Linked DNA regions of Homo sapiens: all the other regions are linked to region 2. Evidence: fine-mapped expression QTL. A gene starts in region 2. Each other region holds a variant in brackets. All regions are shown on one strand. Distances are between the middles of the regions. Region 1 has its middle 79 kb from the start of SCG2. Region 2 holds the start of WDFY1 (WD repeat and FYVE domain containing 1). Region 3 overlaps WDFY1 (WD repeat and FYVE domain containing 1).

The links. PIP is the estimated chance that this variant, and not a neighbour inherited with it, causes the effect.
Region 1: its variant is fine-mapped to the expression of WDFY1 in nucleus accumbens (GTEx, PIP 0.99).
Region 3: its variant is fine-mapped to the expression of WDFY1 in monocytes after Pam3CSK4 (Quach 2016, PIP 0.95).

The regions. Positions count from the first base shown.
Region 1 is chr2:223,678,630-223,683,879 of GRCh38, reverse strand. No RefSeq gene overlaps it. Among named protein-coding and RNA genes, the nearest start is that of SCG2, 79 kb to the right of the region's middle. The variant T/C (reference allele first, on the strand shown) is at 2,381.
Region 2 is chr2:223,943,318-223,948,567 of GRCh38, reverse strand. WDFY1 (WD repeat and FYVE domain containing 1) reads left to right here and starts at 3,233. Exons shown (of 12, transcript NM_020830.5): 1 at 3,233-3,420. The coding sequence starts at 3,284. LOC124907989 (a long non-coding RNA gene) reads right to left here. Exons shown (of 2, transcript XR_007088100.1): 1 at 4,161-5,250; 2 at 1-727. RefSeq lists a silencer at 3,482-3,661 and enhancers at 4,232-4,291, 4,302-4,421.
Region 3 is chr2:223,870,209-223,875,408 of GRCh38, reverse strand. WDFY1 (WD repeat and FYVE domain containing 1) reads left to right here. Exons shown (of 12, transcript NM_020830.5): 12 at 1-61. Among named protein-coding and RNA genes, the nearest start is that of AP1S3, 35 kb to the right of the region's middle. The variant G/A (reference allele first, on the strand shown) is at 2,693.

The DNA.
Region 1 (5,250 bases), 260 kb after region 2:
TGCCACCTATTTTTTATTTTTTTATTTTTTAGTAGAGTCAAGACCTCACTATGCTGCCCTGGCTGGTCCTGAACTCCCGGGTTCAAGCGATCCTCTCACTTGGCTTCCAAAAGTTCTGTAATTACGGACGTGAGCTACTGTGCCTGGCCTCACCCCAAATCTTATCATTCAAAGACAACTGTTAATATTTTTATGAAAATCCTTTAAGACTTTTCTCCACATACATATAAATATATAACATATAACTATAAATAATAATATAAATGTTAGAATATAAATATAATTGTAAGACTATAATGAATATATAATTTACAGTAATATATTTATAAATACACAATTATACTATACATACATATCTAATATCAATAAAAATATATATTACAAACTTAATATCAGATTGTATATAATTTTGTACCTACTTTTCTTGGCTAACAATATACTATGACCACACCTCTATATCAATAAATATGAGTAATATCTTTATTCTAACTGGATGCTAAGAATTTCACTGTATAGGTAAAACTATATATCCCTATTCCAATTATTTAACATGTAGGATTTTTCTAGTATTTTTCTATCATTTACTTTGACAAATATTTTTACACATTTACCTTTGCTAATACACCCAAGTATTTCCTTAGCATGAAATTATAGAACTATAAGATCAAAATGTATGAGTGTTTGGCTAAATTGTATGGCTAAATATATGGCTAAATTGGCCTTCAGACAACTATATCAGTGTAAACTCTCAATTGCATTGCATGAGAATACATCCAGCCCCATGTACCAGCCTACAGGGTCACTAGTATTTGTAATCTTGGTCAATCTGGTAAGCAAAAAACATGTCACTTTAATTTGTCCTTTTATTATAAGTCAAGATGAGCATTTTAATGTGTTTATATCATTCATATTTCCTCTTTTATGAACTTTATATTAATATCTTCAGCCCATTTTCATTTCAGATGTTACCTTTTTCTCTTTGATTTGGTCTGGCTGTGTCCCCACCCAAATCTCACATTCAACTGTAATAATCCCCATGTGTCAATCGTGGGGCAAGGTGGAGATGGAGATAATTGAATCATGGGGGCGGTTTCCCCCATACTGTTCTCATGGTAGTGAATAACTCTTATAAGATCTGATGATTTTATAAATGGGAGTTCCCCATACAAGATCTCTTGCCTGCTGCTATGTAAGCCATGACTTTCTTCTCCTTTGCCTTCCACCACGATTGTGAGGCCTCCCCAGACATGTGGAACTGTGAGCCTATTAAACCTCTTTCCTTCATAAATTACCCAGGCTCAGGTATGTCTTTATTCGCACATGAGAACTGACTAATACATTCTTATTGGCTTATAAATGTGCTTTATATATTGAAGACATTAACACTACATTAAGGTCAATTACACAATTTGTTTCCCACCATTTAAAAAATATTTTACTTTTAAAATGACTTCTGCCTTTCTGAAGCTATGTTTTTCCAGGGACAAACTCCAGTACATTTTTTACAGCAGCTTTATTGGGTTATAATTTACATTCCATTTCTGTGGTTTTTGGTATATTCACAGAGTTGTGCAGCCATTACTATCTAATTTTAGAACTTTTTCATCACACCAAATGAAACTCCTCTGCTTAGCAGAGGAGAGAAACTCTGTTTCTCCTTCCATGTACCCTCTGGAAGCATTAATCTACTTTCTGTCTTTATGGATTTGCCTATTCTGGACATTTTATATAAAAGGAATCCTACAAAATGTGGCCTTTTGTGACTGGCATCTTTCACTTCGCATAATGTTTTCAAGTTTCACCCATGTTGCAACATGTATAAGTACTTTAGTCTTTTTTATTGTCAAATAATATTCTACAGTATAGATGTATATTTTGTTTATGCATTCATCAGTAGATGGATGTGTGGGCTTTTCTACCTTATGGCTATTGTGAATAATGCTGTTCTGAATGTTTTCTTTTCTTTTTTTCTTTTTCTTTTTTTTTTTTTTTGAGACAAAGTCTTGCTCTGTTGCCTAGGCTGGAGTACCAGTGGCACAATCTTGGCTCACTGCAGCCTCCAACTCCCAGGTTCAAGCAGTTCTCCTGCCTCAGCCTCCCAAGTAGCTGGGATTACAGGTGCACATCACCACGCCTGGCTAATTTTTTGTACTTTTAGTAGAGATGGGGTTTTGCCATGTTGGCCAGGCTGGTCTTGAACTCCTGACCTCAGGTGATCCACCTGCCTCAGCCTCCCAAAGTGATGGGATTACAGGCATGATCCACCATGCCTGGCCTACTATGAATGTTTTAATAAAGGTTTTTGTTTGAACATACGATTTCAGTTCTCTTAGGTATATATCTAGGAGCAGAATTGCTGGATCATGTGGTAACTTTGTTT[T/C]AACATTTTGAGAATGTTCAAACTGTTTTCCAAAGTGGCTGCGCTATTTTACAATTCCACCAGCGTTGATAAGGGCTCCAATTTCTCTACATTTTTGCTAACACCTGTTATTAGTTGGCTTTTTAATTTTAGCTATGCCAGTGGGTGTGAATTGGTATTTCATTGTGGTTTTTATTTGCATTTCCCTGATGACTAATAAGGCTGAACATATTTTTGGGAGCACATATTGACCATCGGTACACCTTATTTGGATTAATGTCTATTCAAGCCCTTTGCCCATTTCTAAGTGGGTTATTTGTCTTTTTATTGTCAAGTTTTAAAAGTTCTTTATATATTCTGGACACCAGACTTATCAAACTTATAATTTGCAAATGTTTTCTTCCATGTTTTAGTTGTGTTTTTCACTTTCTTCATGGTACCTTTTGAAGCACAAAGTTTGTCATTTTGGTAAGGTCCAATTTTTCTTTTTTCCACATGTGCTTTTGGCTTTTGGTGTCATATCTAAGAGGCCATTGTATAACTCAAGTTCACAAAGATTCACTGCGATTTTCTCCTCCCTGCCAAACATTTTTTTTTTTTTTTTTTGAGATAGGGTCTTGCCCTGCTGCTTAGGTTGGAGTGCAATGATACAAACACAGCTCTCTGCAGCCTAGAACTCCTGGGCTCGAGCGATCCTCCCACCTCAGCCTCCTAAGTAGCTGGGATCACAGGCACCCACCACTACGCCCAGAGCTAATTTTTGTATTTTTTTTGGAGAGACAGGATCTTGCCATGTTGCCCAGGCTGATCTTGAATTCCTGGGCTCAAGTCATCCTCTTGACTTGGCCTCCCAAGGTGCTGAGATTGAAGGCATGAGCCACCATGCTCAGTCTATTTTCTCTTTTTTTGAGGTAACTTCAGTACTTTTGTAAAATGTTTTCTCTTTGTCATCACATTGACAAATTCTCCTCATCCCAGAATTGTATAAATTTTCTCATATTAAAATGTCTATATATATATATATATATATATATATATATAATTATTTTTTTTTTGACAGAGTCTCACTCTGTCACCCAGGCTGGAGTGCAGTGGCATGATCTTGGCTCACTGCAACCTCCGACTTCCCGGTTCAAGCGATTCTCCTGCCTCAGCCTCCCGAGTAGCTGGGATTACAGGCATGTGCCACCATGCCCAGCTAATTTTTGTATTTTTAGTAGAGACAGGATTTCACCATGTTAGCTAGGATGATCTCAATCTCCTGACCTCGTGATCTGCACTCCTCGGCCTCCTAAAGTGCTGGGATTACAGGCGTGAGCCACCGCGCCCGGCCTATATATCTTTCTAGTAATTTTTGCTTGTGTTTTTTACAGTAACATTTTAATCCCTCTGGGATTTATTTGGGTATGAGAATTGGAGCAGAACACACTTTCCCTATTTTATACTTCAGAGCACTTTCACATAAATTATTTCATACTTGTAATGTAGATGAGAGAGATACATAATTTTTTACATTTTATACATATGAACACAATAATTCAGAGATTTCAAATGATTTGCCTGTGGTAACACATTTAGGTACTGTAAGTATCACACCTGGAATCCAGGTCTTTGTTCATCTGCCTGGAGTCTCTATGACCCATCATCTTTCTCTTCAATGGCGTTAGTTATGGACAGCTCTCTTCTTTGTGGTACTTAACATTACTCACTGGAAGGGAATTTGATCATCTAGTTTGTTAAATCATTATTAAATGCAGCTTATTATATTATTGCAGAGAATTTCAACTTTTTTATGTCCCTAGTTTGTCACAGTGTGGCCTCAGGCAGGTTATTTCATCTCTAATAACTATGACAATAATAGCTAACGTATGTTGACACTGTCCATGTGCCAGGGGCCATGTTCAGCTTTTCACATGGGTTATCTCATTTAATCTTTACACACAAAAAACCCTATGACCAGATGCTATCATGGAAAGGTGTAGTATATAAGCCTAGCAGCCATTTGAACACTTTTGGGTTTCTGACCAATCTTTTCACTTTCAAACTTATTGAAAACCCAAAGAGTTTTTTGTTTGTTTGTTTTGTTTTTTGTTTTGTTTTGTTTTTGAGATGGAGTCTCACTCTGTCACCCAGGCTAGAGTGCAATGGTGCAATCTGGGCTCACTGCAACCTCTGCCTCCCAGGTTCAAGCAATTCTCCTGCCTCAGCCTCCCGAGTAGCTGGGATTATAGGTGCACACCAACATGCCCAGATAATTTTTGTATTTTTAGTAGGGATGAGGTTTTACCATGTAGGCTAGGATGGTCTCGAACTCCTTACCTCAGGTGATCCACCCACTTCGGCCTCTCAAAGTGTTGGGATTACAGGCATGAACCACCACGCCTGGCCTCATTTAATCTTAACACACAAAAAAACCCTATGACTAGTTGCTATCATGGAAAGACATAGTATATAAGCCTAGTGGCCATTAGAAAACTTTTGGGTTTCTGACCAATCTTTACACTTTAAAACTTATTGAAAAACCAAAGAGTTTTTTCTTTATGATTTATATCTATCGCTACCATATTGCAAATGAAAATTAAGAACACTTTATTTGTTGTTTCCTTTAGAAGAACAATAATGAACCCATTATTTGTCAACATAAAAACATTTTTAAAGTGAAAAATAGCTGTATTTTCCCAAAGAGTAGTTTTTTTTTTTTCAGTTAGCAGTGTCTCTTTAATAATTGGCTTAACAGATGACTGCAGGATTCTCATGTTTTCTTCTACATTTGTGGCAATCTCTTACATCATATAACCTCTGGAAAACTCCAAATATAGTGCTCGTGAGAGAGACAGTAAGAAAGGCAAATAGTCCTTTAGTATTGTTATTAAAATAGTTTGACCTTCCAG
Region 2 (5,250 bases):
GCCCAGGCGCAGTGGCTCATGCCTATAATAATCCCAGCACTTTGGGAGGCCAAAGTGGGTGGATCACCTGGGGTTGGGAGTTCGAAACCAGCTTGGCCAACATGGTGACACCCTCTCTACTAAAAGTACAAAAATTAGCTGGGTGTGGTGGCACGTGCCTGTAGTCCCAGCTACTTGAGAAGCTGAGGCACGAGAATCACTTGAACCCAGGAGGTGGAGGTTGCAGTGAGCCAGGATCGCACCACTGCACTCCAGCCTGGACGACAGAGTGAGACTTCGTCTCGAAAAATAAATGAATACAAATTTAAAAACTTGAAGGCAGATTAAACCAGCCTTCTGTTCGAAACTCTCCAATGGCTTCCTATCTCATTTGAAGTAAAAACCAAAGCCCTTATCAATGGTCTCTGGGCTCAACATGGTCTGTCTGGTGACCTGTCTGTGCTGTTTTTCTCTGAGCACTCCCTCACTCACTCTGCTCCAGCCTCACGGGGTGCCTGGCTGTCTCTACAAAACCCCTGGCATGTGCTCACCTCAATGCCTTAACACGTGCTCTTTTCTTTTCCAGAAAAGTATTTGGCCCACATTTCCACATGGCTTACTCCCTCCTCTCCTTCTTGGCTCAAAATGTAACTTTACAATGAGGCTTTTACTTGTCTCAGGTTGCATTCTCCAGCAGCAGATACGGTGATAGAGGTTGGCTCAGAGGGTGTTTATTAGGAATCAATGCCTGTGAAGGGAGGGGGAGGTACCAGGATTAGGCAGGAGAAGTCAGCTGCAGTACACGCCTTACAAAGCCTTGTCCAATCTAGGAGAGAGTTCTAGAGCAAGTGTTGCTCATCGGTCTGTCTTGATGGTCAGGCCTTTATCCTCCTATCTTGTTCAGTTACTGAATGTGGGCTTCCCTGTGAAGGGAACAACTGAGACCCAGTGGTTCTCAGCAGCTGGGGCAGTCCCTGAAGGAGCTGAAGGCTAGAGGCTCTCTGCTGACCACTGTTCTTCCCTGAAAGCAGATCTGTGCAGTGTATTCCTGAATCTATCACACCATCTATTTAAAATCGCAACATCCCCTAGAGTCCCTATCACCCTTCCCTGCTTTATTTTCTCCATAGCATTTAATAGCATTGAACATCTTCTAATATATTATATAATTTAGTTTACTATCTGTTTCCTTCACTGGGATGTAAGTTCTAACAGCAGAGGGATTTTTGTCTCTCTTGAGCACTGCTGCATTTAGAATGGCACCTGGCTCACAGCAGGCACTTGGGAGATGTTGGTTGATTAAACAAAGTTGTTCAGTAGCGTGTCTAGTCATTACACTGTACAGCCTCACAAAAACCATGTCTTATTAATCTCATCAGCAACAGCATATAGTAAGTGTGCGATATATGTCTGTTGAATATAGGAATAAATAAATTCATGAATGTTTGTTAATAACTTCATCATGAGAAAGTATTAGTACAATGGTGGCTCCTGCCCGTAATCCCAGCATTTTGGGAGGCTGAGGTGGGCAGATGATTTGAGGGCAGAAGTTTGAGACCAGCCTGGTCAACATGGTGAAACCCTGTCTCTAGTAAAAATACAAAATTAGCCAGGCATGGTGGTAGGTGCTTGTAATCCCAGCTACTCGGGAAGCTGAGACAGGTGAATCCCTTTAACCTGGGAGGCGGAGGTTGCCGTAAACCGAGATCGCACCACTGCACTCCAGCCTGGGTGACGGAGTGAGTTCGTCTCAAAAAACTAAAACAAAACAAAACAAAAACAAAAAGAAAGTTCTAGTAAATCACTGTACATAGAAGTACCATCTGATTCACATCCATAATTTAAAGTTTTTATTAGCTACCTTAAAAAAATAAGCAGGTCATATTAATTTTAATAGTATCTAACTCAATATATCCAAAATAGTATCATTTCAACATGTAATCATTGTAACAATTATTGATGAACTATATTACATCTTTTTTGTTTTGTGCTAAGTCTATAAAATCTTGTAGTATTTTGCACTTGTACTACATCTCAGTTTGGACAAGCCACATTTCAAGTGCTCTATAGTCATGTGGATAGTACGGTTCTAATGCAATTCTGCAATTCAGGTGTCAGAATAATATAGTGGGGCAGAAGTTTGGAGTCATTGACTTCCTGAGTCCAAATTTTGGCTCTTGAACTTACTGGTTGTCAATGACCTCTAGCCAAAAACCACCAGGAACAAATGGGGTTGATTGCTTGTTGGAGGGAGAAGACACACCATTGGGAATGGTGAGGTGTCTGGGTAAAGGGATGTTCGGACAGTTTTATTATAGGATTTGTGTTTGTGTTAGGTGACCTGGGAGAGCTTAAGGAAGAGAGGCTCTCCTGTGGACTGGATGTTGTCAGGAAATGCGTATAATTCTAAGGTTGCATATCTTAATAAATCTTATCTAAATGGAGGAAGACTAGATAGCGGTTAACATTATAATTAATAAAGAAATAAGAGTCACTCATATTAGCCAGGATAGGGGGATGTTTGGTAATTTCTGTGGCTTGTACATCGCTCATATTTTGGCCGTGTTTAGATGTGATTATGGAGTGGCCTCGTCTGATGTTTATGTTCCACAGGAAGCAAACACTTCCTAGCAACACCAAAGCTCAGCTGATAGTACCAGGCAGCTCCTGGAGATCAAGGGCTGCTTTTCTCCCTCTCATAGCTGTGCAACCTTAAGGTAGTGATCAAACTTCTCTGGTTGTTTTCTCATCTCTAAAATGGGAATACAAGAGCATCTATTTCATCTCTTAAAATTATCAGTATTAAATGAGATGCAAAGACACTGAGTTAATGCCTGGTATATGGTCACCACTCAGTGCTATCTATTGTAGTTCAAAGATTCTAAGATGCACTATATTTTTTCACATTTTAACATTTCTGAAAGTGTGTGCCTTTCAAACAATGGCTTCTTCAAATGGATGAAATGTAGTATTGTAATTTCTGAAATCTCTGGTTTGGGGGACAATTCCTTGTCCCCTCCAGGTGCTCAATTTATTCCTGGGTGAATGGCTTTACTTTTAAACCTTCCTTACTTTCCCCATTTCTCCGCAGGCGCCCCGTGGCATCCTCTCCCAGCCACAGACTTTCAGCTTGCGCGGCATCCCCAGGCAATACGGGCGGTGCGGCGGCAGCACTCGGGGGCTTACGGCGGCGCGGCGCCCAAGAGGCCCCAGCAGCCGAAGGGAAACCGGCGCGTCCCCCGCCCGCCCAGGCGTCAGCTGATGGGCTGCCTGCCGAGGAGGCCGCAGCAGTCGCCGCGCGAACATGGCGGCCGAAATCCACTCCAGGCCGCAGAGCAGCCGCCCGGTGCTGCTGAGCAAGATCGAGGGGCACCAGGACGCCGTCACGGCCGCGCTGCTCATCCCCAAGGAGGACGGCGTGATCACGGCCAGCGAGGACAGGTAGGGCCCGGGCGCAGCCGGGGCGGCCCGAACTCCGCGACGACGGGGTGTGGGGGCGGTGGGGTCCGCGGCCCCGGTCCTTCCTGCGTGAGGGGGCTCCCCCGGCAGCACGGCCCCACCCCCACTCTGCGCCCCTTAGCTCCGCCGGGTTCCCGGTTCCCTCCCGCCGGTCCTCCAGCCTCGACTTGCACCTTTCCAGCCTGGGACCCCGGTCTCGCCGCGCCCCTCCAGCCCGGATCCCCTGTCCCACCGCGCCCCTCCAGCCCGGGAACTCCGTCTCACCGCGCCGCCCAAGCCCGGGACCCTTGTTCCAACGTGTCTTTCCAGCCCAGGACCCCTGTTCCAGTGCGCCCTACCGCGCCCCTCCCAGCCCACCTCGCCCCTCCTGCTCAGGACCCCTGTTCCAATGCTCCCCAACGCGCCCCTCCAGTCCGGGACCCTTGTCCCACTGCGCCCGTCCATCCCGGGAGCTCCGTCCCACCGCGCCCCTCTAGCCCGGATCTTCTGTCCCACTGCGCCCCTCCAGCCCGGGAACTCTGTCCCACCGCGCCACTCAAGCCCGGGACCCCGGTTCCAGTGCGCCCCAACGCACCTCTCCAGCCCAGGACCTCTGTCTCACCGCGCCCCTCCAGCGCGGGAACTCTGTCTCACCGCGCTGCTCAAGCCGGGGACCCCTGTTCCAGTGCGCACCAACGCGCCCCTCCCAGCCCACCGCGCTCCTCCAACCAGGGAACCCCGACCTGCGGTGTCGCACTAGCCTGGGACCTTCGTCCCGGTCTCTCTCCCTGGCGGGGTTTAGCCTGGTACTCGGAAGGTGTTTCTTGGCCCTCCCGGGTCAGTTCCAAATCGTCTCCTCTGGAAGCGTGGAGGACCGGCGGCTGGTCACTGCGGACCCTGGTGCCCGGGGCTTGCTTCTTTGCGAGGAACTCCAGCCGCCTTCGCTCTCTTCCTCCCCCTGTACTCAGGGATTTCACGCCACGCCAGGCCTCTAGATCAGTTATTTTTGCCACGGCTGCTAGAATCACCTGAACTCTTATTTACTAAATAGGTTTTTGTGAAAGTGACTCATTTTTAAAAATATTTGGATGCATTTATTTTAAAAGGAAATCTTATTTATTAGGAAAACTAACATTACTCACCAGACAGAGTAAACTAATAACTAAAACATGTTAATTGGCATGCACACAGAGTCCTCTCTTGCACTGTGACATCTTGCATTGGACGCCCACCATGCTTTTGGGAAACACTGATTGGGTCCAGTTTTCTCATTTCTCCTAAGAGGAAGCCGAGGCTGGTGGAGGTGTAGCTTGCTGCTAAGTTACAGAGATACTGGTGAAGCCGGAAATGCAATCCAGAACTCCCACCAGCTCTGGGCCTGAGTGATTGGATTGGAACAGTATTTATGATTCGACTTTAAACTTTAGCGTCTTTCAAATCCTAAAGGTTTACAATGTCAGTAGCTTTCCGGTGGGAATTTGAAGGAAATGACTGATGTTTATTGAATGAAACTGTGTTTCCTTGATGCAATGAGCCGTCTTAAATAGGGATAGTCCACAAGTCCAAAAGCTTTCTGGAGGATGGAAGGTACTGCTATTCTCTTAAAGCTGAAGGCGTGGTCTCTAGCCTTTTGTAATTATACCTTTTGAAGTGACATTGACCCTATCCTGAATGGGAAGAAAAAGCCTGAAGCCCCCAACTCCTGTTGGTCCTTTGGATTTTGCTTTTGAGTGAGCTTGTGCCTTTTTCCTCAATTAGATAATGAGCTGATTGTGAGCAGGCAGTGGCCTCTCCCTGCTGGTTCACCTGTAGCTGACTTCCAACAAGGAGGGG
Region 3 (5,200 bases), 73 kb after region 2:
CTGTTTTTGTGGGTTTTTTTTTTTGAGAAAATGTACACAATAAAACATTCCTTGCTTGTTACTGTGTTTGCCTAATATCACTTTTGTTGTAGTCAGCCTGGACGTAGGGCAATAACAGTAGCAACCATTTATTCAGCACCCTCTGTGTGCTGGGTGCTTTCACTACATTATCTTACTCAATCCTGGCAACACTTGGGCAAGGCATCATTCCTCCCATTTTACAGATGAGAAAACCAAGAGAATGTGTGTTATTAAGTCTGCCTTTCTGTCTTGAAAACACATGCCTTCTTCCTGCCTCTGGCCTGAATGTGCTAGCATGTCATTTGTGCTGTCTGTAAGGGTGGTGGGTATTACTGTCTCTGCCGCTTGAGGTAGCAGTCAGCATAGTGCAGGATATTTAGGCGCTCTGACTACACAGAGCTATCTAGTGATAACAAGATCAAGCTCTACTTCTCCTCAGCAGCTCAGTTTTGTGAGTGAACACGTGTGGTTCAGACCCAGAAGAACTGATACCTCAACTAAACCAGAGATTGATTTAGAAACCAGAAAGGCAGTGAATAGTATGTTTTTCAAAATAAATATGGCTTTCTTTTCTCTCATCATCAAAATATTATCTTATTATAATAAAAAGAAAAGGAAGCTGGGCGCGGTGGCTCACGTTTGTAATCCCAGCACTTTCGGAGGCTGAGGTGGATCACGAGGTCAGGAGTTCCAGACCAGCCTGGCCAAGATGGTGAAACCCTGTCTCTACTAAAAATACAAAAAATTAGCCAGGCATGGTAGCAGGCGCCTGTAATCCCAGCTACTCAGGAGGCGAGGCAGGAGAATCGCTTGAACTCGGGAGGCGGAGGTTGCAGTGAGCTGAGATCGTGCCACTGCACTCTAGCCTGGGCAACAAGAGCGTGACTCCATCTCAATAAAATAATAATAATAAAAAAGGAAAAGAAAAAGATAGAACCAAAAAGTATAAAACAAGTTGTTTTTAAAATCATCTCATCCCACCACCTGGAGAAAACACCATTAAACTTATCCTGTATATCTTTCCAATGTTTTTATAAATGTCTCCTTACATATGTAACACACACTTAGAGATACATTGTTTTAATGGGACCATACTTGTTTTCCCACTTGATACATTATGGATAGTTTGCCCGTGTCAAAAAGTAGAACTCCATGTTAGTATTTTTTATGGCTGTGTAGTTGCAGTAGACATTTGCTCCTGCCATCATCTGGACACATGTTGGGATCCCACGTCTCCATTTGAGGTCAAGAAAGGCCCTTGTAACTTGCTTTAGCAAATGAAACGTGGGCAGAAGCTCTTTACTGCAGGTGAGCCTCTGGTACCATGACACTTTCTTCCATGCCCCTCATGAAGCATGTGTTGGTGAAGTGTGACGCTAAGCCATTCTACAGATCACAACCGCTCTAGGACTGCAGTGGACTTTGCATGATCGAGAAATAAATCATTGTTTTAGCCCACTGTGGTAGGGGTGTGTGGTGTGTGTGTCAGGGATGGGAGAGTGGCTAGGGATTTGTGTGTGTGTGTCTTACAGCATAATACTAGCATGTATAGCAGTATCCCATTGTCCTATGTGGCTAAGCCATCATGCATTTTACCAATCTCATAAAATTAGATTATATATGTTTAGATTATCATTGTAATTAAAACACTAAATATTTTTCAAATTTTTACATTTAAAAATATACAAGCTCAGCATGCTTATATGTTTATCTTGCCCACTTTTCCAATTATTTTCTGAGGATAAAGTCTTAAAAAGTGGGAATTGCTAGGTCAGAATATGCATGTTATTAAGTGTTTTATTGTTATTGATAATATCCTCACACTATTGCCAAGATTTGAATTTGTGTTTTTGGATAGGCGATAAAAAGGTATCTCTTATTGTCTGAATTTATGGAATGGCAGTTACTTTACAGTGAAAATAATATCAATTTCCCAAGTAGAAAACTGGAAATTCTGAGGCCAAAGTCCAACCTCCTTTTCTAGTAACCCCGTATTGCAAACCAATTATTTACTTCCTATATTCTCTAAAGACCAGTGATTCTTAGTTAGTGTTTTATGATACCGTATTTTCTTTATTTTGAAATTTTTTAAAAAAATTATGCTTTAAGTTCTGGGATACATGTGCAGAACATGCAGGCCTGTTACATAGGTATACACGTGCCATGGTGGTTTGCTGTACCCATCAACCCATCATCTACATGAGTTATTTCTCCTAATGCTATCCCTTCCCTAGCCCCCCACTCCCCGACAGGCCCCAGTGTGTGATGTTCCCCTCCCTGTGTCCATGTGTTCTCATTGTTCAACTCCCACTTATGAGTGAGAACATGCAGTGTTTAGTTTGCTGTTCCTGCATTAGTTTGCTGAGAATGATGGTTTCTAGCTTCATCCATGTCCCTGCAAAGGACATGAACTCATCCTTTTTTATGGTTGCATAGTATTCCATTGTGTATATATCCCACATTTTCTTTATTCAGTCTACCATTGATGAGCATTTGGGTTGGTTCCAAGTCTTTGCTACTGTGAACAGTGCTGCAATAAACATACGTGTGCATGTGTCTTAATTCTTTCTAGAAAGTACATTTTATTTTTTATTTTTTGAGATGAAGTCTGACTGTCACCCAGGCTGGAGAGCAGTGGCGTGATCTCAGCTCACTTCAAATTCTGCCTCCC[G/A]GGTTTAAGTGATTCTCCTACCTCAGCCTCCTGAGTAGCTGGGACTACAGGCGCATGCCACCATGCCTGGCTAATTTTTATATTTTTAGTAGAGACAAAGTTTCACCATGTTGGCCAGGCTGGTCTTGTGATCTAACCTCAAGTGATCTGCCCGCCTTGGCCTCCCAAAGTGCTGGGATTACAGGCATGAGCCACCACCCCGGCCTAATTTTTATCCAAAATAGATTAACATTAATGCACAGCAAGGAATGGAGGGGTGTCCCAAAATTGAGCTAATAAATTTGAAAGAACTTGGGACTCAGTCTTCTAGAGTATGGCTGTTAAACCTATGATGCTCTTAAAGGACTTTGTTACTTAAATCCTCCTAATAGGGATATTATCTCTTCCTATAATATTGAGAATAGCCAATAGCTTTGCAGACTCTACCATGAAAATCAAACACAACTAATAAAAGTTACAAAACAATCACATGATTTTAGTATTTCAAAACTCCAGGTATCATTCATTTATTAAATAAATGTGATATTGAGTTTTGGCAAGATAATAGCAAACAACCAGATTTTTTAATAGCTGTAGATTTCTTTGGTTAATTCTGTGATATTAAGTTTTGCAGGCTTGCATAATTTGTTGAATTCAAAATACCTTAACTCGACCAGGCACGGTGCTTCACGCCTGTAATCCCAGCACTTTGGAAGGCCGAGGTGGGCAGATCACCTGAGGTCAGGAGTTCAAGACCAGCCTGGCCAACATGTTGAAACCCCGTCTCTGCAAAAATACAAAAATTAGCTGGGCATGATGACGGGTGCCTGCAATCCCAGCTACTCAGAAGGCTGAGGCGGGAGAATCACTTGAACCCCGGAAGCGGAGGTTGCAGTAAGCTGAGATTGTGCCACTGCACTTCAGCCGGGGTGACAGTGCGACACTCGGTCTCAAAGCAAACAAACCTTAACTCAGAGAAAGAAAAATTGTTTTTGAACAACTTCACATTTATTTAAATGATTCTTCTAGATCCACCACATGCTTAAACTCTTGTGAGACTCGACCCATGCATGATAATGGCCTGTAACCTGCATTTCTGCTCTAGCTTGGAAGCCTCTGGAAGACAGGGGCTGGTCTTATCCTCAGTGTCCATCACACAAGACCTGCTCAGTCCCTGATCTTTAGACCTTTGATTTAGATCTTGTTTTCATTTATTCCACAGATTGGAGAGCAAAACTTGATATGTTTCTTCTCATGCTTTGAAAATGCCACTTTAGGCTGAATGTGTGGAAAGTTCTGTTGTGCAATTTTCCTCAAGCTGTTGGGGATAGAGGAACTCATTAAAGAGCAACTTTTATAATTAGGAACATCTGGTTGAATGAACCCACTGTGGTGTTAGGAAGAAAGGGAGGGGAGAAAGAAAACATATGGTCAGGCAGAAATTTGTTCATTTCTGGAGTTACCTGTATAAAAACAATTCTTTGCTCAGGTGATTTGAGGACTTTATTTCTAAGTTATTCATGTACTTTATTTTTTATTTATTTATTTATTTTTGAGACAGAGTCTCACCCTTTTGCTCAGGCTGGAATGCAATGGCGCAATCTTGGCTCACTGCAGTCTCCACCTCCTGGGGTCAAACGATTCTCTAGCCTCAGCCTCCTGAGTAGCTGGGATTACGGGCATGTGCCACCACATCTGGCTAGTTTTTATATTTTTAGTAGAGATAGGGTTTCACCATACTTGCCAAGCTGGTCTTGAAATCCTGACCTCAAGTAATCCACCCGTCTCAGCCTCCCAAAGCGCTAGGATTACAGGCGTGAGCCACCACGCTTGGCCTATTCATGTACTTTCATATTTCTTGTATTGTCAGGTATATATTATCTGTTATCTGAGGGAGTCATATCAGCCGTTATCTGTCCAACGAATATCAAGTTGCAACTGTGCGCCGACAACATAGGCGAGCTTGCCAACATCAACCTCGGCACAGGCCTAAGGGCACTACCTTCCAATAGACCCTCAGAACAGCCGCTTCTCACCATTCTGCTGCTACTACCATGGGGCAGCCCACACTCATCTATTCCGGCAGCCCCCTGGATTAGTCAGGGTTCTTTAGAGGGACAGAACTAATAGGATCGATAAATATATGAAGGGGAGTTGACTCACACGATCACAAGGCGAAGTCCCATCATGGGCCGTAATAGGTCTGCAAGCTGAGGAGCCAGGAAGCCAGTCCAAGTCCCAACCTCAGAAGTAGGGAAGCCGACAGAGCAGCCTTCAGTCTGTTGCTGCAGGCCCGAGAGCCCTGGCAAATCACTGGTGTAAGTCCAAGAGTTCAAAAGCTGAAGAACTTGGAGTCTGATGTTCGAGGGCAGGAGGCATCTGGCACGGGAGAAAGACAGAGGCCAGAAGATTCAGGCAGTCTAGGCCTTTCATGTTCCTCTGCCCGCTTTTATTCTAGCCATGCTGGCAGCTGATTAGATGGTGCCCACCCAGACTGAGGGTGGGTCTGCCTCTCCCAGTCCACTGACT